Regions from separate parts of the Homo sapiens genome. Here region 1 is linked to region 2. The links come from fine-mapping of genetic effects on gene expression. A gene starts in region 2. The other region holds a variant in brackets. All regions are shown on one strand. Distances are between the middles of the regions. Region 1 holds the start of RNU5A-1 (RNA, U5A small nuclear 1). Region 2 holds the start of CILP (cartilage intermediate layer protein).

The links.
Region 1: its variant is fine-mapped to the expression of CILP in whole blood (TOPMed, PIP above 0.99).

Annotation. Positions count from the first base shown.
Region 1 is chr15:65,288,743-65,296,742 of GRCh38, reverse strand. It overlaps RNU5A-1 (RNA, U5A small nuclear 1), which reads right to left and starts at 692; the gene lies at 576-692. RefSeq lists an enhancer at 1-565. The variant G/A (reference allele first, on the strand shown) is at 3,134.
Region 2 is chr15:65,204,044-65,220,963 of GRCh38, reverse strand. CILP (cartilage intermediate layer protein) reads left to right here and starts at 9,491. Exons shown (of 9, transcript NM_003613.4): 1 at 9,491-9,536; 2 at 11,103-11,269; 3 at 13,200-13,292; 4 at 13,913-14,182; 5 at 15,498-15,677; 6 at 16,382-16,696. The coding sequence starts at 11,209. RefSeq lists an enhancer at 7,961-8,862.

The DNA.
Region 1 (8,000 bases), 80 kb before region 2:
ACTACAGGCGCCTGCCACCACGCCCGGCTAATTTTTTTTGTATTTTTAGTAGAGACAGGGTTTCACTGTGTTAGCCAGGATGGTCTTGATCTCCTGACCTCGATGGTCTTGATTCTCCTGCCTTGATGACCAGGATTGGTCTTGATTGTCCTGCCTCGGCCTCCCAAAGTGCTGGGATTACAGGCGTGAGCCACCACGCCCGATCCTCGCGTTGTGTTTCAACCGGACAGTGCTGCAAAAAGAAAATGAACTGAATACTGTACATTACAAGTAACAAAAAACATGCATCTACCAAACAGTCTTGACTAAGAAGATCCCGGAGGAGGTACTACTTGTGTATCAACTGTCTATCACAAAAAGTTGAAAAGCATGAATATACAAGCCGCATTTCTTTGGAACATATATACACAGAAATAATTACCAATAAGGTAGGGAGAAAAGAACTAAACAGGGTTCAGTGCTTTTACCACACAGAATCTGCTAGTCACTGCTTTACAACAATATCAAAAGCACCATTGAACAGAAAAAGGAACACACAAACTTAAAAATAATTTCTATTGTTGGATTACCACATATAGCCTTGCCAAAGCAAGGCCTCAAAAAATTGGGTTAAGACTCAGAGTTGTTCCTCTCCACGGAAATCTTTAGTAAAAGGCGAAAGATTTATGCGATCTGAAGAGAAACCAGAGTATACCAGTTACTTCTGTAACTCAATTTTCGGGTAACTGCAATTCCTAGTACACTGATGGTGTCTACTAATCCCAAGGGTTACTACCTGAGAAAGTTTATACAAAAAAATTCTGCATGCAAAATTCTCATACTTAAAAATGTCAAGCAATATATAAATGTTTTTCCGAAAAAAATACTGTTTGCAGTGTATTATGGGTATGCAAATGAGACCTGAATAATCGTCTTTAGACTCCGGAAATACCTTAGCAGTCACACGGTGCTCTTGGGGCAACCTTTAGGGGGTGAAGTGGAGGCCTTGCTGCCCAGGACTTTTTTTTTTTTTTTTTTTGAGACAGGGTCTCACTCTGTCATCCAGGCTGGAGTGCAGTGGCGCGATCTCGGCTCACTGCAACCTCTACCTCGGGTTCAAGAGATTCTTCTGCCTCAGCCTCCCAACTAGGTGGGATTACAGGCGCACGACACTGTGCCCAGCTAATTGCCCAGGACTTTTAAGCCCTGTCTCTAAAATATAGAAACATCTTAAAGATTTTTAAGTATATCTCGTAAATAATGTATATAGTCTATGTGCATACATAATTCAAAAGTAATAAAACACTGATGTCTCCCATCCAGTTCAAAAAGTATATTGTTAACATCTTTGAAGCCTTCGTTGGCCCATTTCCCCTATCATACCCCTCACTCGCTATATGGGTAGTCACTATCTGGAATATGTATTAACCATTCCTTTGCACTTAAATGCCCCCCCCCCCCCCCCGCCCCAACTATTAGAAAACTCCCTCCTAGCAATACTCCCACCTCAGCCTCTCAACTAGCTGGGACCACAGGCACGCGCCACCACACCTGGCTAGTTTTTGTATTTTTCGTAGAGACGGGTTCTGGCTTTCTTGCCCAGCCTGGTCTCGAACTTCTGGCCGCAAGCGAGCCTCCTGCCTCAGCTTCCGGAGTTGCTGGATTACAGGCGTGAGACAGCCGCCAGCTCTTCTTTCACTTTCTTCACGAGATTTTGCATATATATAATATATATATTACATATTATATAAATAATATATACTATATATAATTACATAGTATATATCTATAATTATATATTACATATATATACATTATATATTATATATAGTGTATTTTAACATGTTTTCTAGCCTTCATTTAAATTTTTAAAGTTTGTTTTGTTATGGTGCTAAAATACACATGAAACTTACCGTTTTAACCATTTTTAAGTGTACAGTTCAGTGGTATTAAATATATTCACACTGTTCTGCAACCATCACTACTTTCCATTTTCAGAATTTTTTCATCATCCCAAAACCCATTAAATAATGACTCCCCATTCTCACCTGAGCCCCTGGCAACCACCATTTTACTTTCTGTCTCTATGATATTGCCTTTCTAGGTGCCTCATATAAGTGGAATCTGGAATATTTGTTCATTTGTCTCTGGTTTATTTCATTTAGCATAATATCTTTAAGGTTCATCCATGTTGTAGCATGCATCAGAATTTTATTCCTTTTTTTTTTTTTTTTTTTTTTTTGAGACAGTTTTGCTCTTGTTGCCCAGGCTGGAGTGCAATGGCGCGATTTCTGCTCACTGCAACCTCCACCTTCCAGGTTCAAGTGATTCTTCTGCCTCAATCTCCTGAGTAGCTGGGATTACAGGCATGCGCCACCACACCTGGCTAATTTTGTATTTTTAGTAGAGATGGGGTTTCACCATGTTGGTCAGGCTGGTCTCGAACTCCTGACCTCAGGTGATCTGCCAGCTTCGGCCTCCCAAAGTGCTGGGATTACAGGCGTGAGCCACCGCGCCCACCCAGAATTTTATTCCTTTTTAAGGATGAATAATATGCCATTATATGGGTACACCACATTTTGTTTACCCATTCATTTGTTGATGGACAGGTATTGTTTACACCTCTTGGGTTATTGTAAATAATGCTTCCATGCAATTATTTTTATATTTAAGTTAACAGTAAAATTGAATTTTTCTGGTATACAGATCTACGATTTCTTTTTTTTTTTTTGTCTTAAAAAAATTTTTTGTTTTTTTGAGAGGGGATCTCACTCTATCACCCAGGCTGGAATGCAGAAGTGCGATCTCAGCTTACTGCAATCTCCACCTCCTTGGCTCAAGTGATCCCACCTCAGCCTCCAGAGTAGCTGGGGCTACAGTTGGGGCCACCATGCCTGGCTAATTTTTGTATTTTTAGTAGAGACAGGGTTTCACCATGTTACCCAGGCTGGTCTAGAACTCCTGGCCTCAAAGCCATCCGACCACCTCCGCCTTCCAAAGTGCTAGGATTACGGGCTTGAGCCACTGCTTGTTTTGTTTTTAGAGACCAGGTTTCCTATGTTGCCCAGGCTGGTCTCGAAATCCTGGTCTTAAGCAATCCCACAACCTCATCCTCCAAAGTGCTGAGATTACAGGCGTGAGCCACCATAAGAGG[G/A]TCTCTGTTGCCCAGGTCTCAGCCTCCCAAGTAGCTGAGATTCCAGGTGCAAGCCACCATGTCCTGCTGCTACTTGTATTTTTTTTACAGGTGTGATCCACCACACCTGGCCAGATCTATGATTTTAAATTATTATTTTTTATTTTATCCTCATTGCATACTGAGTGCATCTATGACTTTTTAAACATGTACATAGATTTGCATAATCACTACCACAATCAAGATACACAATAGTTTCATCACTCCAAAATTTCCTCATGCTGCTCTTTGTGGTCACACCTTCCTCTACTTGTAATCCTTTACAAACACTGACCTGTCCTCCAACAATACTTTTGCCATTTCCGACATTTAAATGAAACATTCAGCACATACCCTTTGAACTGGCTTCTTGTGCTCAGCATGATGCCTTGAGATTCACTCATGTTGCATTCCTCTCTGTTCCTGTATGGCTGTACCATGATTTATTTACCCATCCACCTGTCATGTCCAGTTTTTAGTGATTGCTAACAGAGCTGCTGTAAACATTTTTGTACAGATTTTTGTCTGAGCAAGAGTTTTCACTTCTCTAAACACCTAGAAGTGGGTATTGCTAGGTCTTATGGTAGGTGGATGTTTATAAAAACTGTTTTTACAGAGTAGTTACCAGTTTATATTCCCACCATCAATGTATAAGAGTTTCAGTTACTCCATATCCTCTCCAACATGTAGAATTGTTCGTTTTATTTTTTAAATTTAAACCACTTCCACGGGTGGGGTGTGTAGTGGTATCTCTGGTTTAATTTGCATTTTCCTCATGACTAATGATGTTGAGCATCTTCCCAAGTGCTTAATTGTCATCCATGTATCTTCTTTGGTGAAGTGCCTGTTTAAGGAGCATAAAATATATAAGACATGCATAAAACATAAAGAAAAACAACTGGCCGGGCATGGTGGCTCACACCTGAAATCTCAGCACTTAGGGAGGCCAAGGTGGGAAGACTGCTTGAGGTCAGGAGTTCAAGACCAGCCTGGCCAACATGGCAAAACCCCATCTCCACTAAAAATACAAAAATTAGTCGGGTGTGGCAGAGGGCGCCAGTAATCCCAGCAACTGGGGAGGCCGAGGCATGAGAATTGCTTGAACCTGGGAAATGGAGGTTGCAGTGAGCCAAGATCACCCCACTGCAATCCTGCCTGGGCGACAGAGCGAGACTCTGTCTCAAAAAGAAAAAAAAAAGGCCGGGCACAGTGCCTAACGCTTGTAATCCCAGTACTTTGGGAGGCTGAGGCGGGCGGATCACGAGGTCAGGAGTTTGAGACCAGCCTGGCCAACACAGTGAAACCGGGTCTGTACTAAAAACACAAAAATTAGCTGGGCATGGTGGTGTGTGCTTGTAATCCCAGCTACTCGGGAGCTGAGGCAGGAGAATCGCTTGAACCCGGGAGGTGGAGGTTGCAGTGAGCTGAGATCATACCACGGCACTCCCGCCTGAGTGACAGAGCTAGACTCTGTCAAAAAAAAAAAAAAAAAAGGCAGGCAGGCGCCAGGTGCAGTGGCTCACACCTGTAACCCCAGCAGCACTTTGGGTGGCTGAGGTGTGTGGATCACGAGGTCAGGAGATTGAGACCACCCTGACCAACACAGTGAAACCGCATCTCTACTACTAATATAAAAATTAGCTGGGCGTGGTGGCACACACCTGTAGTCCCAGCTACTAGAGAGGCTGAGGCAGAATTGCTTGAACCCAGGAGGCGGAGGTCGCAGTGAGCCAAGATCGTGCCACTACTCTCCAGCCTGGTGACAGAGCGAGACTCCATCTCAAAAAAGAAAAAAACAACAGATATACAGTTGACCCTTGAACAACATGGGGGGTTAGAGTTGCCGACCCCTCTCGCAGTTGAAAATTTGCATGTAACTTTTTTTTTTTTTTGGTGGGGAGATGGGGTCTCACCGTGGTCCAAGCTGGAGTGCAATGGCTTGATCTCGGCTCACTGCAACCTCCGCCTCCTAGGCTCAAGCGATTCTCCTGCCTCAGCCTCCTGAGTAGCTGGGACTACAGGCATGTGCCACCACGCCCAGCTAATTCTTGTATTTTTAGTAAAGACGGGGTTTTGCCATTTTGGCCAGGCTGGTCTAGAACTCCTGGCCTCAAGTGATCCGCCCGCCTCGGCCTCCGAAAGTGCTGAGATTACAGGCATGTGCCACCATGCTGATGCATATAACTTTTGACTCCCCCTAAACTTAACTACAAATAGTCTACTGTTGACCGACAGCCTTACAGATAACAGTTGATTAACACATATTATGTGTGTTAAACGTATTATATACTGTATTCTTACTACAATGAGGTAGAGGAAGGAAAATGTTATTAAAGAAGAAGAGAAAATAGGCTGGGCATGGTGGCTAACACCTGTAAACCCAGCACTTTGGGAGGCCAAGGCAGAAGGACCACTTGAGGCCAGGAGTTCAACACCAGCCTGTTCAAGATTTTGTCTCTACTGAAAAAGAAAAAGAAGAAAGAAAAAAAAATTGCTGGGGATGGCATCATGCATCTATATAGTCCTAGCTACTCAGGAGGCTGAGGCACGAGAATTGCTTGAACCTGGGAGGCAGAGGTTGCAGTGAGGTCACACCACTGTACTCCAGCCTGGTGACAGAGTGAGACCTTGTCTCAAAATATATATATATATATATATTTACTATTAAAAAACCCCACTAAATAAACAAAAAGAACATATATTTACTATTCATTAAGTGGAAGTGGGTCATCGTAAAAGTCTTCCTCATTGTCTTCACGTTGGGTATGTTGAGGACAGGGAGGAGAGGTTGGTTTTACTGTCTGAGGAGTGGCAGAGGAGGAAGAGGTGGAGGTAGAAGGGAGGCAGGCATACTCGCTTTAGTTTCAGTGCCCATGTCATAGAAGGGTCCACGTTGTAAAAGCAGTCTTGAATACTAGGAACACTTCCGCCAGATTGTCTAATGTCAGTTGTTCTCCGGCACTGCGTCTTCTACATCATCTTCATCGTCTTGCACTGGTTCGAAGGCACTCATCTCCACCAAGTCATCTATTCGTTCCTCTAGTGTGACATCTAGTAGCCCTTGGATTTCTCCAAGATTCATATCTTGAACCCTTCACCCCACACACATCTCTTTTGCATATCCACAATCTCTTTCTTGATTTCCTTGACAGTCTCTGTCATAAATCTCGTGAAGTCATGCACAACATCTGCACACAATTTTTCTCCAGCATGAATTTATTGTTTCAGGTTTGATGGCCTTCACATGTTTTTCTACAACATCTTCAATGGTGTAATCCTTCCAGACGTTCATGATGTTCTCTTGGTTGAGGTCCTCTCCCATAGTGTTGACGATCCCTTCCATAGAGTACTGGGTGTAATAAGCATTAAAGATTCTTATGACCCCGTGATCTAGAGGATGAATTACAGACATCGTCCCTATTCAGAGGCAAGTAGACCACTTGCACCTTCAGTGTTGAACTCGGGGTTCCGGGTGGCCAAGAACATTGTCCAATATCAAAAGAACTTGAAAAGCTCCTGCTGGCCGGGCATGGTGGCTCACGCCTGTAATCCCAACACTTTGGGAGGTTGAGGCAGGTGGATCACTTGAGGTTGGGAGTTCGAGACCAGCTTGGCCAACATCATGAAACCCCATCTCTACTAAAAATATAAAAATTAGCGAAGCGTGGCGGCACACACCTGTAATCCCAGCTACTCGGGAGGCTGAGGCAGGATAATTGCTTGAACCTGGGAGGTGGAGGTTACAGTGAGCCAAGATCAAGATCGCACCACTGCACTCCAGCCTGGGCAACAGAGCAAGACTCCGTCTCAATAAATAAAAGGCAGCTCCTTACTGGCAAGATATAATACTTCCTGACTTCAAGGACAAAGCATTCAACCAATCCAGAGGAAGGGTTCTTCTTGTCCAGGCCTTCTTGTTGTACCAAGAGTGGCAGCTTGTGTTTATCTTTTCTCTTCAAGGCTTGGGGGTTATCAGCTTTACAGATAAGGGAAGTTCTGATAATAAACCTGACCAAATTTGCACAGAACAATAGTCAGCCTATCCCTTTCTGCCTTAAATCCTGGTGCTCGATTTTCTTCCTTACTAATAAGTGTCTTTTGTGGCATCTTCTTTCAGAATAGGGCATGTTCATCGGCATTAAAAACCTGTTCAGGTGGATATCTTTCCTGTCAGTGATTTTTTTTTTTTTTTTTTTTTTTTTTTTGGGAGATGAAATCTTACTCTGTCACCCAAGCTGGAGTGTAGTGGCATGATCTCAACTCACTGCAACCTCCGCCTCCCAGGTTCAAACAGTTCTCGGGCTTCAACCTCCCGAGTAGCTGGGGCTACAGGCACGTGCCACTATGCCTGGCTAATTTTTGTATCTTTATTAGAGACAGGGTTTAACCATAGTGGCCAGGCTGGTCTCGAACTCCTGACCTCAGGTGATTTGCCCACTTCGGCCTCCCAAAGTGCTGGGATTACAGGTGTGAGCCACGTGCCTGGTCCCCACTTTCAATAATGAATAGAATAAACAGAAGATCAACAAGGAAATCTAAGATTTGAAAACAATATAAATCAACTAGACCTAACAGACATCCATAGAACACTTGACCTAACAGCAGCAGAATATATACATTCACATGAAACATTCTCCAGGATAGGCCATATGCTAGGCAATAGACAAACCTCAATGAATTTAAAAGGACAGGAGTAAACAAAATGTGTTCTCTAAGCCAGGTGTGGTGGTGTGAGCCTGTAGTCTGAGGTACTCTGGAGGCTGAGCCGGGAGGATCATTTGAGGCCAGAAGTTCTAGGCTGCAATGTGCTATGATCATGCTTGTGAATAGCCACTGTGCTCTAGCCGAG
Region 2 (16,920 bases):
GAATTGTATCCAGAATCTATAAAGTACACATTAAACTCGATAATAAGAAAATAAACGGCACTTTGGAAGGCCGAAGCAGAAGGATAACTTGAGCTCAGGAGTTTGAAACCAGCCTGGGCAACATGAAATCCCATTTCTACAAAAAATAAAACCCAATTAGCAAGGTGTGGTGGCATGCACCTGTAGTCCTAGCTACTTGGGAGGCTGAGGCAGGAAGATCTCTTGAGCCTGGGAGGTGGAGGTTGCAATGAGCCATCATGATGCCATTGCACTCCAGCCTGTGCAAAAGAGCGAGACCCTGTCTCCAAAAAAGAAAAAAAAAAGAAATGACTCAATTACAAAATGGGCAAAATATCTGTACAGATACTTCATCAAAGAAGATATATGAATGGCAATTAAGATTCCTAACATCATTGGTCACTAGGGAAATGCAAATTGAAATCACAATGAGATCACACTGTACACCTATTAGAATGGCTAAAAACAAACAAATAATCAAACATAAAACCTTGACAATATCAGGTGCTGATGTGAATGCTGAGCAACTAGAACTCATACATTGCTGGTGGGAATGTAAAAGGTACCATCACTTTGGAAAACAGTTTAGCAGTTTCTTATAAAGTTGAACATACACTTACCATAGAGCCTACTTGTAGGTATTTACCCAAAAGAAATGAAAAACATGTTTACACAAAAGCCTGTGTACAAATTATAGCTAAAATGTACTTGCTAAAAACTAGAGAACTGGGCCGGGCGCGGTAGCTCACACTTGTAATCCCAGCACTTTGGGAGGCTAAGGCCGGTGGATCACCTGAGGTCAGAAATTCAAGACCAGCCTGGCCAACATGGTGAAACTCTGTCTCTTTAAAAAAAAAATACAAAAATGAGCCAGGCGTGGTGGTGCATGTAGTCTCCAGCTACTCAGAAGGTGGAGGCAGGAGAGTCACTTGAACCAGGAGGGGGAGATTGCAGGGCAGTAAGATTGTGCCACTGCACTCCAACCTAGGTGACAGAGCGAGACTCCGTCTCAAAAAAATAAGAATAAAATTTTTTTTAAAAAACTGAAGAACTGGCCAGATGCAGTGGCTCACACCTGTAATCCTAGCACTTTGGGAAGCCAAGGAGACGGATCACCTGAGGTGAGGAGTTCGAGACCAGCCTGGCCAACATGGCGAAACCCTGTCTCTACTAAAAACACAAAAAAATTAGCCAGGCGTGGTGGTGGGAGCCTGTAATCCCAGCTACGTGGGAAGCTGAGGGAGGAGAATCACCTAAACCCGGAGGCGGAGGTGGCAGTGAACTGAGATCGCACCACTGCACTCCAGCCTGGGCAACAGAGCGAGACCTCATCTCAAAAAAAACAAACAAAAAACAAAAAACTAAACAAAACAAAACAAAAAGCTGAAGAACTGTAGACAATCTACATGTCCTTCATCTGGGAAATGAAGAAACAAATTGTGCTACGTACATGCAATGAATACTACTCAGCAGTAAAAAGGAATGAACGGTTGATACACACAACACCATGGACGATTATACTAAATGAAAGAAACCAAATTCAAAAGGCTCCTACCATATGCCTCCATTTATATGACATTCTCAAAAAGGCAAAACCACAGTGAAAGAAAGATTTGTGGTTGTCAGTAATTGGGGATGGGGAGAAGGGCTGACTACAAAGGAAACTTCTGAGGTTTTGGAAATATTTTTTATCTTAATTGTGATGGTGTTACATGATTATATTTGTCAAAAATCACAGAAGTGTAGATCCAAAAGACTGAATTTTACAATATAAAAATTTCAACTTTTAAAAATTGGGGGTGGGATTCAAATTCCTTCTCCCTTTTGTTTGTCTTCCTTGTCACTGCCCAACATCCTGCCCTTGAAGCTCTTGTTCTCCTAGAGAAAACATTGCCCAGATTCGGCCACACTGAAGACTGCCTTGCTTCTGAGGAAAAAAGGGAAACCCACTAAGAATGGTCTGCAGGGCCACGTGTCTGTCTCTGTCCCACCCTCTGTCCCACGCCATCTGTGTAGGCCCAGTTGCCAAGGGCGACCCAGCCTTTCTAACCTCCATTTCACCTTCCCTGGGCTAGAGTCCTGGTGGTGACCTGGGCAGGGACCAAACCCTTACGGCCCAGGTGCTATATGGGCGAAGATTTTGCTTGGAAAGAGGGCGGCTCCTCCCACTCAACTTCTCACAGCTGTGTTTTCTAACCAATAAAATACCCACGTGTCCGGAGAACATATAGCCAGAGAGGGCATCTACCCAGCATCCACCTCACTTCATCCCCTACCAAGGCCACCCCTGTCACTGCTGCAGGCTTTTCTGGGCTGCCAGCATCTTGGCCAGAGCTGAAGCCACACCACACCCAGAGCCATCTGGGACCTCTCAAGAGAGTCATGAAGAGGCCTCGGGTCATGGGAAGGAGAGCAGCAGAGTCTGGTGGGTGCATGGGTGAGCTTATGCCCTAGAACACCCAGGGCATACCCATGGTGAGTGTGAATAGCCAGGGGAGGGTGAACACTCTTGAGATAACACCTGGGTGAATGTGCACCCCCTAATCCTATACAAAATTGTGAATGTGGATGTTCATGGGAAATACAAGGGGGATACAGTGGTATGAACACTATGACGTGCACATATAGAGTAGGAACTCAGCTGGTTCATGCAGTGAACACTACAATGTCACTGAATGAGAGCAAACTATGAAAGTGTGGTGAAGACGCTATGGACTGTGAACATACTATGGTAAATTTGTTGAATGTCATGGTGACATTGCATGAATTCTGTAGTCAGTGGTGAAAACACGGGCCTCTAGGGTGTGTGTGAACACACTGTGATAAGCATGGTGGACGCTATAGATGCTGTGTGTGAACATAAGGCCCTGACTGGGCTGAATCCATCATAGGAACACTGAGGTGACCCTGCTTTAAGCTTGAGAAGCATTCTGGGGTGACCACAGTGAGCGTGTTATGCAGAGGGTGGAGAGCTCTACTGAGCACGTTTTGGAGTATCTGCTGTGATCATAGCCCATTCTCTGGGAATCTTCTCCCACCTATGGCCGCTGAGTAAGCACATGCTTACAAGACTAGGTGCTGATCAGTACGCTGCAGTATTCACAGCAACCAGTGTGGCATGTGCAGTGCTGAAGGTTTCTTTCTTTTTCTCCTATTTCCTAAGTTGGAGTTGTTATTATGGTTGCTTGGTTTTGCTCAACTGTTCTGGAGTGTGTTGCTATGGTTACAAGATGGCAGGGGTTACATAGGTGGGTTTGGAACGGAACAAATGATGGGTAAACTCTGAGGTTGACAGCTATTAAAGTGGTTTTTTCATATCATGACTCTTAACCCTTTTTTTTTTTTTTGAGATGGAGTCTGGCTCTGTCACCCAGTCTGGAGTGCAGTGGCACAATCTCAGCCCACTGCAACCTCCGCCTCCTGGGTTCAAGTGATTCTCCTGCTTCAGCCTCCCAAATAGCTGGGATTATAGGTGCCCACCACCACGACTGGCTAATTAAGACTGTCTCAAAAAAAAAAAAAAAAAAAAAAAGGGCTGGGCGCAATGGCTCACACCTGTAATCCCAGCACTTTGGGAGGCCAAGGCGGGCAGATCACCTGAGGTCAGGAGTTCCAGACCAGCCTGACCAACATGTAGAAACCCCGTCTCTACTAAAAATACAAAATTAGCCAGGTGTGGTGGCGCATGCCTGTAATCCCAGCTACTCGGGAGACTGAGGCAGGAGAATTGTTTGAACCCGGGAGGCAGAGGTAGTCATGAGCTGAGATTGTGCCATTGCACTCCGGCCTGGGCAACAAGAGAGAAACTCCATCTCAAAAAAAAAAAAAAAAGTAGACCTTATCTTATTGGTTACAAGTAAGTCATGAGGCCAGCTCAGATTCAAGGGGAGGAAAATTAGATTCTATCTCCTGATGGTGGATTAGTGTAGTTACATTGTATGAGAACATAAGGAAGGGGAAATACCATTGCAGCCATCTTTGGAAAATACAGATTGCTACAGCCTCCTTGAGAATAAAGCCATCCAGAGGAAGCAATTGAGATATGGAAAAAGAAAAGTTCTAATGATGTTGTCTGAGTACCTAGATCCAACTTTTACCAAGATTTCCATCATCAGAACCATCAGATTCTTTTTCTGCTTAAACCATTTTGAGGCCGGGCGTGGTGAATCATGCCTGTAATCCCAGCATTTTGGGAGGCCAAGGCAGACGGATCACCTGAGGTCAGGAGTTCGAGACCAGCCTGGCCAACATGGCGAAACTGAGTCTCTACTAAAAATACAAAAATTAGCCAGGCGTGGTGGCACTCACCTATAATCCCAGCTACTTGGGAGGCTGAGGCAGGAAACTCACTTGAACCCTGGAGGTGGAGGTTGCAGTGAGCCAAGATCATGCTACTGCACTCCAGCCTGGGCAACAGAGTGAGACTCTGTCTCAAAAAAAAAAAAAAAAAAAAAAAAAAAATTTTGAGTTGTGCTTTATTACTTGCAACTGAAAGAGCTTTTACTCTTAGTGTATCAGTTATCTATTGCAGCATAACAAACCACTCCAAAGCTCTGTGGCTTAAAACAATGATTTATTATTTCTCATGATTCTGTGGGTTGGCTGTACAGAATCAAGGTCCAGACCATTCCTCTGTTGGTCTCATCTGGACTTTCTCAGGCAACTGCATGTGTGGAAAGTTCAAGATGGCCTCATTCACCTGTCTGGCCATTGGCTCAGGGTCTCAGTTCTTATCCATGTGGTCTCTCATCCTCCAGTAGGATAGACTGACTTCCTTAGATGGTAGACAATGTTCCAAGAGAGCGATGGTGGAAACTGTAAGCTCTCTTGAGGCCTAAACTCCAGAACTTATGCAACATCACTTCTGTTCTATTCCTTTATTCAAAGCAAGTCACAAAGTCAGTCCAGGTCAAAGGAATGAATAAATAGGCTCCACCTCATAATGGGAGAGTTGCAAAGAATGTGTGGCCATATTTAATCCACCACAATGTGGTAGATAGCTGGATTATGTTAGATGGGAACATCTTTGGAATTAGTATATATACAGGAAGCAGGGTGTGTATGCCAGGCAGGTGGGACAGACTGTTCTAGGCATGTGCCCACTGAGGAGCCTACAGTTGGGGTGTGACTTCCATGGTGGGTCCTCTGAGCTGAGGACCCTATGACAAGGTATACATTAGACCTCTGGTTCACAGGGGCAACTTGGAGCTGAAGACCTACCATAGCTGAGTGACTTCATGCCTCTTAGCCTCAGTTCATCCTCTGTAAAATGGGCATGCTGATCCCTGCCTCACAGATTGACTGTGAAACTGAAGATGAGATGATCACCACTAATGTGCCTTGTAAATGACAGAGTGTCATCTACATGTGACTGTGTATTATTATCTGAGATCTGAGGAAGAAGTACTCAAGATGGGCCTGGGTAGTTGCAGAGGGCAGGAAGGAGGACACTGAGACAGGGATTTGAAGAAGGACATTCACACTGGTGAGGGAGAAGGGCCGTATTTCAAGATGGGAAGCTGGAGAATAAAATTATAAAGGCACAGAGGTAGAACAATGACAGAGGGTACCCAGGAGAGGGAGGAGAGCAACTTGGTCAGAGGGTGAGCCCCCTCTACCACCCTGGACTCTGGGTTTCTGTGTTCCCAGGCAGTGGGGCAGCAGCCACTGATGGTCACTCAGAACTACAGCCAAGGCTTCCATTCTTCAAGGTTTATCAGCTGCTTATCCCCCCACAGGCCTCCAAGGCCTCCTCCAGCCACAGGGGTTGACGACAGAGGTGGTGGGCAGGTGGTCAGAGAGTCAGATAGAGCACCCTCCTCCTGAGCCACCAGGATCAGGTCAGACCCCTCCCAGTGTTCCCAAGCTCCTTTCCCCACTGCAGGGTGCAGGGTGTGGACCCCTGGCTATAGGCTTGGGTTACAGGTGGCCTAGCTAAGCTGGGTTCCAAGTCCCTTCATCCCCTGGGCAGGGATGGGGTGATTGATGGGTTTCCAGCATGTTCCAGGCAGAAGCTTGGAGTGGCTGCAGAGTAGCCTGGCTTGCAGAAGCCCCAGATGGCCACTCGTGGCTGAGGCTGACCCACCCAGGCCAGGCCTTGGACAGTCTAGACCTACGGCCACCTCCAAAGCCCTCTCTATTCTGGGGTCCTGGTTGAGGACAGCAATAGCTTCCCCCCCAAAGGAGTCCTGGGAAGAGAGAGTGAGGGCAGGCTCAGATTTCCCCAGTCTAGCCCTGTGCAGCTCACACAGCTCATTCCTACTTGGAGACAGGAAAGGACTCTGATGGGAGTATGGGAGGAGGCAAGATATGAGACAGGTGGACGGAAATGGCATGGTGGAATTGGAACGCAGCCCTCAACCCTGTACTTACCATATTAACACGCACTGGCCACTTGGGGCTAGGTAAGTGAGGGCCTCAGTGTGAGTGCTGGGCTGAATGAGGAGACCCAGGCAGGAATCCTGGCCTAAAACACTCCACTTTGCCCAATCCTCACCCATAGGGTACCCTGCCTCCCACTACAGAAAGAGATGGAGGTGACTGGGAGGCTGGGGAGGCGTCTCTTACCCACCCTGGCATTCCACAGAATGAAGGCCTTGGAGAGCAGCTGATTACCCTGACCTTGCCCTCTGGTTTACCTCCCACTACCTTCCTTTCCTGTGTATCTCTCTTGCTGTCCTTATCCAGCCTTGGTGGTCATATCTGCTTCTCTGGACTTCCTCCTGACCTTGACTCCACACTGGCTCCTCTGACTTCTGCCAGACACGTAGGAGCAGTCGTTCCCTCCACTCTCTCCTCCCAGCTCTGTTTGCTGTCAGTACAGATGGTCCCCAACTTAGGATGATTCAAGTTACAATTTTCCGACTTTATGATGTGCAAATGTGACACAAATTCAGTAGAAACTGTACTTTCCTGTACAACCATTGTGTTTTTCACTTTCAGTACAGTATTCAATGTATCACATGAGATAATCAATACTTTATGGTAAAATAGGCTTTTTGTTAGATGGTTTCGTACAACTGTAGGCTACTGTAGGCTAATGTAAGTGTTCTGAACATATTTAAGGTAGGCTAGGCTAAGTTCTGATGTTCAGTAGGTTAGGTGCATTAAGCGTATTTTTTTTACTTATGATATTTTCAACTTACAGTGGGTTTATTGGGACATTACTATAAGCCAAAGAGCATCTGTATATCTCAAACCTTGCAATCTCAGAGCTGGCAGGGGCCTGCAAACTCACTCAGTCCATCTCCCGTTGCACACCTGAGGCCCAGGGTTACTTGGGTTCTTGCTAGTTCACGGTCGCATATCAGAATCAGAAACAGCCAGGACTAGGCTTCTGAATTCCAAATTTCAATTTTTCTCCTGTCCTTTGATCTGGGGATTGTGGCTCAGCCTGTCTGTCTGTCTATTCCTTAGGCCATCAGATTTCACATGGGGTTCACTCAGTTCAGACGTCTGCAGTCAAAGCCATGGCTGAAACTGAGTCATGGCTTGGCTCTGACAAGTTGGACCAGACTAGGGCCAACTACAGGGCTTATGAACCAAGGGCTGGTGGCCAGGAGGGAGACGGGGCTCCAGGAGATAAAGCAAATCAGATCTATGCCCCAGGTCTACTTGGGAACCATGCTGCTCAACATCCTTTCTCCACCCCCACTCTCTTCCCCAGCAGATTTTTTTTTTTTTTTTTTTAGACCAAGTCTCACTCTGTCACCCAGGCTGGAGTGCAGTGGCACGATCTCAACTCACTGCATCCTCTGCCTCCTGGGTTCAAGCCACTCTCCTGCCTCAGTCTCCCAAGTAGCTGGGATTACAGGCACACTCCACCATGCCTGGCTAGTTTTTCTATTTTTAGTAGAGATGGGTTTCACTATGTTGACCAGGCTGGTCTTGAACTCCTGACCTCAAGTGATCCACCCGCCCCTGTCTCCCACAGTGTTGGGATTACAGGCGTGAGCCACTCCACCCAGCCTCCCAGTATATCTTGTCAAAGGCAATGCTCAGAAAAAACAGCTCTTACGCACACATACACACACACACACAGAAAGACACATACACACAGGAAAAGGCATAAACACACACACACAGAACTCTCTGGCATGTGGGTATGCACTGTTGTACTACGGGATCATTTCCACGTGAGGCTCTTTCCTCTGAGTGCAAGGATACATCTCTTTTCTTGTGCCTTCCCAGTGCCCAGTCTAGAGCCTGGGAATAAGAGCTCGGTAAAGGTATGTGGAGAGAGTGAGCTGACCCTGGCGTGGATGGCCACAGGACCAGGCCTCCATCTCCAGTTGCTGGCATGAGGCAGGAAGCCCAGCCCAGGCTAGATGAGCCTGCTACATGGGGCAGGACCTGGGAAGCTCCCACTGTGGTCCTTAGTACACTCGCTCTTCATCTTCTTCCTTCAACTGGGGCTCTATCACTGTGACCAGTCAATCTCAAAATGTGATCCATGAACCAACAGCATCAATCTCATCTGGGAACTTGTTAGAATGCAAAGTCTCAGGCCCCACTGAATCAGAAACTCTGGGTGTGGGGTCCAGAAATCTGCTTTAACCGCCCTCCAGGTGATTCTAACACATGCTAAAATTAGAGAACCAGTGTCTGTGCAAACAGATAACCTCATGCTGGGGCCAGGGGGCCGGGAGTGGGGGTGTGAAGCCCCAGAGCACATGCAGCTGCATACGCCCCCTATGGGTAACACTGGCTGTTCACATGCTGGTGGATGCCTATACCTGAAGGCAGACACGTACTCACACGCATGCACATATATGAGCATCAGGGTCTCAGAAGAGTCCACATGCTGGAGCTCTGGGGTCTCAGTGGGTACCAGCAGGCACTCAGATGGAAGTGGGGGGGAGAAAGGAAGAACTGTTCTCACCAGCTGACAACCTATGCCCCACAATTCTTTTGTCCCTTATCCCTTCTGAGGTTCCCTGAGTGTTCCCTCAGAAGCCAGAGAAGCTGAGTAGTTGCCCAACTCAGACCAGACACACCCAGCTGAGAGGCCAAGGTGGCCTGTGTGCCTAAGAGTGTTTGGAGTATGTGCTAAGACCAGCAAAGTCTTTTCTCTGTGTGGGCGAGCCAGGGCCAGGGGAATGTGGGGCATCAGCAAGCTAGGCTTAGGCAAGAGCACACCATCCCCCGGGCCATGAAATGCTGCCCAGATCTAGAATTCCCCGTGGCCCCTTCCCAGGGCTGTTTCTAGTGCCCAGCCCACCTCCTGACCCCTCTCTCTGCTCTGGACTGTGATGCCCCAGGCCACTGCCCACCTGGCCCATCACCAGGTCCTGCGGCATCTCCTCCTTAGGATCTGGACATAAAATCCTGGCCTCTGTGAACTGCAAGGGGACATGGGGAGGGGAGAGGGAGGCTCATGCTCAGATCTGGTTTCGCTGCTGCTTCCTCTGGCTGGCTGCCACAGGCTGAGCCACCAGCTGTGCTATATAAGGCCGGCACTGGACTGCTGGAGAGGCGAAGGCTTGGACCCCCAGCTGAGGAGTCCTGCTCAAGACACGGTGAGCTCCACTCCTATTCCCCTCACCCCATCCCTGCACCCCACTGCTGGACTCAACTGCTCCTGCCCTCCCCTGACTACTCCATTCCCTTCTCCCCACTTCCCCCCACTTTTTGCTGCCTGATCCTTCATCTCCCACAGAGAAGACTCCCTTTCTGCTTTGGGAATCTGCTTTCCCCCATTGGCCCAAAGTCCTCTCCCTCCCCCACCTGAGGACAGGAACCCCCAGATGGTCCCACTTAGGGTTTCCATACCTCTGGGTGCCCTGCTTTATTCCCTGCGGTCAGCCAGTCTGCTTTGTCCAAGTGTTCTGAGGAGCGTGGGATGGCAAGCCTAACCATCAGGGCATATGCTGAGGAAACGGCGGAGATGCTGAGAAACCTCTGTGGGCTGCCAGATGGGAAATGGTTTTTCCACAAGGTGTCTCAGGCCACCTCAGCCTCCAGACATCCCTGGAGCAGGCTCAGGCTCAGGCTGAATGCAGTGCAGGCCAGCAGACTGCTCAGCTCCCTGCTTGGAGCCCAGAGGGATACACACAATGTGGAGGCCTTTGGGACGTCCTGGTGACTCTGCTCCCTCATCCGAGAAACAGGTAGTGGTGGGGCCAGTGGTTTTAGAGCTAGAAGGTCTGCAGCATGGGACTGGTTTTTTCTTCCCCTGGAATATCCCAGTGTTTTCAGATATGTGTATTTTTTAGAGAGGAGGACTCTTCCCTTTCCTACCACACCCTGGACTTAGGATGTTGAAGGGAACCACTTTTGAATCCCCAGAAACGAGTCAGATTCTGGGTTGGCCGGAGCTCTGGGGAGACATAAAAATGTTCTGCTCAGCTGCGGCCTGGGCCACGCACGCCCCATAGTTCCTTGCCCTTGTCCCAGGCCTGCTTTCCTCTCCTGACCCTTGCAGTTCCTCACCCACGCTCAGCAGTTACTGGGGAGCCCTGGCCTCTCACAATGCATCCCCTCTGCTTTCCGTCAGCTGGCTCCTGGCTGTGTAACTCCCAGTCAGGCCCCAAACAAAAAGGCCAGAAATGTGTTCCAGCTGCAGCCCGTGCACATCTGGGAATGTGTTCATGGAGGTGGTATGTCCGAGGCATCTGCACCCTCCAGCCAGCCTGCCTTATGAGAGGCCACTGGAGTCGGAGCCAAGTCTTCACGGCCTTAATATGTACCCGCCTGTGTGAGAGTGTGAACTCCATCAAAGGATGGCAAAACAAATGCCCCTCAGGCCTGGGTTTTAGAAGTGACGAGTCACCAAGAGGCTGCTGGGGGTGAGCCCTGGACTCTCCTCATTGCAAGGAACCTCCTCGCCCCTGCTTGTCCTTGTGCCTCATCTCCATGTGGGGCCCTGGAGCCTACCCCCAGGGATGGAACCTAGTCTGCCTCATTTGAACTCAGATTCTGAGCCTCTGCACCTCCCAAGCTACCTGGTTTCACAACTCAGGCAGATATCACTTTCATATCATTCTGTCCACCTTTCCCTCCTTGACAGGTCAAGAAATATTTCTGCTTGAGCCATAAGCGGTGATTCAGAAATATGAAACCTGACAAGCTTTGTTTCTTTACAGGTCACTGGATCTGAGAAACTTCCCAGGGGACCGCATTCCAGAGTCAGTGACTCTGTGAAGCACCCACATCTACCTCTTGCCACGTTCCCACGGGCTTGGGGGAAAGATGGTGGGGACCAAGGCCTGGGTGTTCTCCTTCCTGGTCCTGGAAGTCACATCTGTGTTGGGTATAGGCTAAGTATCTGCTGGCTCCCAAATCTTCCACTTGCCACAGTGAGGTTGTGTCTGGTCTGGGACTGAACTATGCATCTGCCTTAAGACACAGCAAGGCCTTAAGACCTGAGGCCACTTTATGGATTTATTCGTAATTTATACCCTGTTTGTTTTTCTCCAAAACTTGAGATTGTTCCCATTATTAAAACTCACAAAACAGAACCTTTATATGAGAAGAGGGATGAGCAGTCATTCAGAGGGAGGAAAAAAAGATAAGAGGGTTATTTTTAGCCCTTGAGTACCAAATTGAGCTCCGAGCTTCCTGGCAGCCAAAGTAATAGGGAATCACAGGGCATCAGTGAGATCTCAGAAGCAGGTTTGGGGTTTGGTCTGTTTTTAGTTTTATGAAGATTCTTTTGGCCCAAAGCTCAATTTCATTTAGACCCTGCAGCCAAATTTCACAGACACACCAGAACCCCTTCCGGTCTCCTTGCCCTCTGACTGCATCCTCTGGTGATACTGAGCTCTGGAAGGAACTCGTAGAAAGAATTTGTCTGGTGGAACAGAAGACTTCCCAAGGCATCTAAGCGTCAGCCCTCCCCTGCACACTCTCTCCCACCTCCTCCCCTTCCTCTCCTGATTTCTAAGCACATACTCAGGTAAAGCAAAAGCAAAAAAAAAAAAAAAAAAAAAAAAGCTCAAAACCCTCCTTTAAAGCTGTATGCCTTGCAGGATTTGTGGCTACAAATGCAGGAACAAAGGCTGTCTCAGCCTGGAGCCAACCCCTGTATGTGCCTGCCTCCTGCCTTGCTCTTTCCACCCTGACAGCTGCTGCTTGTGAAGATGATTAACATTCAACCATCTGAGGGGAAATCAGATTAGGTTGATTAAAAGAGCTCCTATCACCCCAATTAAGCAGCATAGAGAATTCTGATTTGGCTCCTGGAGTAAGCGTTAATTGCCTGTCAAAGCTTCTGCAGCCCTCTGCTCCGCATTCTCCTTCCCATTCTGGAGACCCCAACCCAGCCTCAGGTAGGGTACAGCTGGAACTGCTTGTGGCCCGAGGACCCTGTACCCATCCTCAGGCAGTCCCTGCCAGCCTCGTATGGAAAATTGAGGACCGCTGCCCCAATTAGGCCATAGGAGTCTTTATGGGAGAGTGGACTCCCAAGGGAAAGTAAATGGCCATCTATTCTGGCGTTGAGCTAAAAGAAGTTGCTAGCACTTATTCAGTATGCGTTATGTGCTAGGTGTTGTTCTAAGTGGATTTTATGAATGAGCTTATTTAATCCCCACAATACTCTAAGGCAGGAACTATCATTATCCTTATTTTATGATGAAAGAACATGGGGTCAGCTGGGTTAAGTAACTTGCCCAAAGTCACACAGTTAGAAACTGGCAGAGTCTCAGGAGCCCACACTGTCAATCTGCATATACTTCAGAGGCTTTTACGTTCTAGCTCATGGAATCCTCATGCCAACTGAATCACCCTGCGAGATGGGAATAAATATCTCCATTTTACACATGAGGAAAACAAAGCTCCATTTTGCCAAGAAGGTTTGGTGCAGACACCAAAGCAGGAGTCCCAGGCCACTGGCTGCTCAGGAGCATCTGATAATCCATTTCTAGAACAAGAGTGAAAAGGGAGATACCATTCACTGAGTGTGCACTACAAGCCAGGTCTCTTTACATTCATTATCACCTGAATAATGCACCAGGACCCTAGGATGCAGCAATTATTAGTGCATTCCTATTTTATGGGGAAACAGGCTCAGAGGAGTAAAGCTTTTCTGAGATTGCACAGCAATAAGTAGCAGAGTGGGGTTTGAACCCATGCCTGGTGCTCATGCTCCATTCACCACCTCACACTGTTTCCCTGCATCTTGAGGAATGCTGTAACTTCCAGTCCTGGCCTCTCACTTAGCTTCTCCTTCTGGCCCTCAGGGAGACAGACGATGCTCACCCAGTCAGTAAGAAGAGTCCAGCCTGGGAAGAAGAACCCCAGCATCTTTGCCAAGCCTGCCGACACCCTGGAGAGTGAGTTGTGGCTGAAGCAGGGAGGGGCTGGAGGGGCAGCCTTTAACGAGCTTCCGAAGTGGATCTCTGAAGCCAGGGCATGATGTCAGGGTCCCATGGAAACCCACTTTTACAAGCATTTGGCCTCCATCTCTGTCCAGCCAAGGAACTTAGTATATAAGACAGCTCAGAATCAGGAATCTGCCTGATACCTTTCAGGAATGCTGTGGAGCTTGCTGGGGCCAGAGCACAGGCTGGTGGGAAGGGAGTGGGGAGATGAGTATGGAGAGATGGCTGGGGACAGCTCACCAGCACCCTGAATGCCTAGCTAGACGATCTTAAAGCTGGAGGTGATGTGGCCCGAGCCACATGAAGAAAGCTCACCCTGACTGCAGGGTCAGGGATGGGTGTGAGTGGCATTGAGGAGGAGCCTTGATGTGGAAAGTGACTGACATGGTTCAGTCAGGCTGATGAGAGCTTGAATGGAGGCCTCAGCAGTGGCAGGTGTAAGAGGGGATTGGAGAGATACTGGAGAGACAAATGTGATAGGGCCTGAGGCCAGCTGGGGGTGGGTGAGAGGGAAAGGAGAACTGGAGCGCACCAGGATCACGGCTCCTCCGCAATTTGGCTATGTCTCTCAGGCCCTGGTGAGTGGACAACATGGTTCAACATCGACTACCCAGGCGGGAAGGGCGACTATGAGCGGCTGGACGCCATTCGCTTCTACTATGGGGACCGTGTATGTGCCCGTCCCCTGCGGCTAGAGGCTCGGACCACTGACTGGACACCTGCGGGCAGCACTGGCCAGGTGGTCCATGGTAGTCCCCGTGAGGGTTTCTGGTGCCTCAACAGGGAGCAGCGGCCTGGCCAGAACTGCTCTAATTACACCGTACGCTTCCTCTGCCCACCAGGTAAGCCAGAACGCCCCCACCCCCACCCGCTACTTCCCACTGGCCTCTACTCAGGGAGAGGGAGAACCTGCCTCTGGCCACCAGAACTCTCAGCATCACACACATGCGTATGCTTGGACTCTGTAATAATAACAAGTAGTGACACACATGCATATGCTTGGACTCTGTAATAATAACAAGTAGTGTCATTAATGCCAGAACTTTTCCAATAGTGTTTTGTGTTTATGGGTACTCTCTATTCAACCTATTTTATTATGTTTGAGTGGTACCATGGTGAAGACCACAGGCTCTGAAGTGGGGCTGCTTGGGTTTGAATTCTGAGCCCGCAATATGATGTGTCCCCTAGACAAATTTTCTGAAATTCTCTTAGTTTCAGGTTTCTCATATGTGACACCTGGGTAATAGTAAGTCTTCATAGGGGTTTTTAATGAGGATTAAATGATATGAATGCAGAGGCTTAACCCAGGTAAATGCTCACTGAGTGTTAGTTTCTATTCTTGTTCCTATGTGCCAGATACTGTGCTAGTTATCCACTTTATTCAACCTTTACAACTGACCTTTGAGAGATCTCCATCTTGACAAGTTACACGAGGTTCAGAGAAGCTAGGTAACTTCTCACGATTCCATAGCTGATAAGGCAGAGCTGGGGTTTGAACCATGTCCGTGTTTGCAGAGTCTATGCATTTATATCCCCTCCCACCATGGATAATACAGATGTTATGGGGAGCAGGCCTGCTCCCTTCTTGGATGGGGATCTTCTCCCTTAGGGTTCCACAAGATCCCCCAGGCCCAGACGCCAGTGGTGGTCATCTGGGATGGGAGCTCAGGCTGATCTGAGCAAGGTGTGAAGACCCCATTCTTGTACACAGGCCTCAGGCCAGAGGTGAGGAAGGTGGGCAGAAATGGGCTTCTTGTCCAAGTCATTGCATGTTGCAGGCCCCGACTTCCCAGGGGTCCCTGATTCCCAGGGAGTCCTTCCATAGGAGCATGTGGCCGTTTCCACACTGGTGAAGAAGAAAGACAGTGCTATCCCTGCACATCCTAGGACAGCATATCAAAGTCCCAGTGCTTGGCCAACAAGCACCGCTCAGGGCCACCCCTAGCCCATATGGTGCCTCTGTGCAAATTAGAGACCTCACTTCCTCAAGAATTTTGTCTGTTGGAAAAATCACTGCAGTAAATATAAATATCAGTGACATCTACGACATAAATGGAAACCTTGTCTTTACCAGAGAAGAAACAGCCTCAGGGTCAGATTTCCTGACAGAGTTCCCTCAAGAGGGAAATCAGACCGTCTGCTGATCTCACTTTGCAGGATCCCTGCGCCGAGACACAGAGCGCATCTGGAGCCCATGGTCTCCCTGGAGCAAGTGCTCAGCTGCCTGTGGTCAGACTGGGGTCCAGACTCGCACACGCATTTGCTTGGCAGAGATGGTGTCGCTGTGCAGTGAGGCCAGCGAAGAGGGTCAGCACTGCATGGGCCAGGACTGTACAGGTACCACCCTCCCTCCTGGCACTGGGCAGGGTGTGGTGGGTGAGGCTGAAGAATGAGGAGGGAGTTAGAGGGTCAGTTTGAGACTGATGGATTCCTTCATTTACTTACTCACCACGTATTAACTGAGCATCTACTATGTGCCCTAATGAGAGATATACAGGATAATATAGGAACACAGGGCAGGGTCAATTATCATAGCCTGGGGGAATCCAGGAGAGCTTCCTAGAGGAGGTGTTTTGGGCTAAGTTGTTGTTGTTGTTGTTGTTTTGAGACAGAGTCTTGCTCCATTGCCCAGGCTGGAGTGCAATGGCGCAATCTTGGCTTACTCCAGCCTCCGCCTCCTGGGTTTAAGGGATTCTACTATCTCAGCCTCCCTAGTAGCTGGGATTACAGGTGCGTGTCACCATGCCCAGCTAATTTTTGTATTTTTTGTAGAGACAAGGTTTCACCATGTTGGCCAGGCTGGTCTCAAACTCCTGACCTCAGGTGATACACCCACCTTGGCCTCCCAAAGTCCTGGGATTACAGGTGTGAGCCACCACGCCTGGCCTTGGGATAAGTTTTAAAGGATGAGTGGGAGTTAGTCATGCAGGCTGATAAGGGAGGGTAGCAAAGGCCAAGGAGGAGAGGAAGTGATCTGTGATGTGGCTGAAGGAATGCCAGAATCCATAGAATCCCTGCTGATATGGCCCCTTGTTCCACAGCCTGTGACCTGACCTGCCCAATGGGCCAGGTGAATGCTGACTGTGATGCCTGCATGTGCCAGGACTTCATGCTTCATGGGGCTGTCTCCCTTCCCGGAGGTGCCCCAGCCTCAGGGGCTGCTATCTACCTCCTGACCAAGACGCCGAAGCTGCTGACCCAGACAGACAGTGATGGGAGATTCCGAATCCCTGGCTTGTGCCCTGATGGCAAAAGCATCCTGAAGATCACAAAGGTCAAGTTTGCCCCCATTGTACTCACAATGCCCAAGACTAGCCTGAAGGCAGCCACCATCAAGGCAGAGTTTGTGAGGGCAGGTAACTAAATTCTTTGGGGTAGGGCTGGTGAGAAGGTCCAGATTTTTAAATAAAGGGATTATAGTGCTAAAAGCTGGCTTCCCAGCTAACTTGGAGTAAAACCCCGAATCCTTACCATGGCCCACATGGCACTATATTATCTGGCCCTCCATTTCTTCTCTGCTCTCCTCTCCTGTTACTCGCTCTACACCAAATCACTCTACTCCAACTGCAATGGGCTCCTA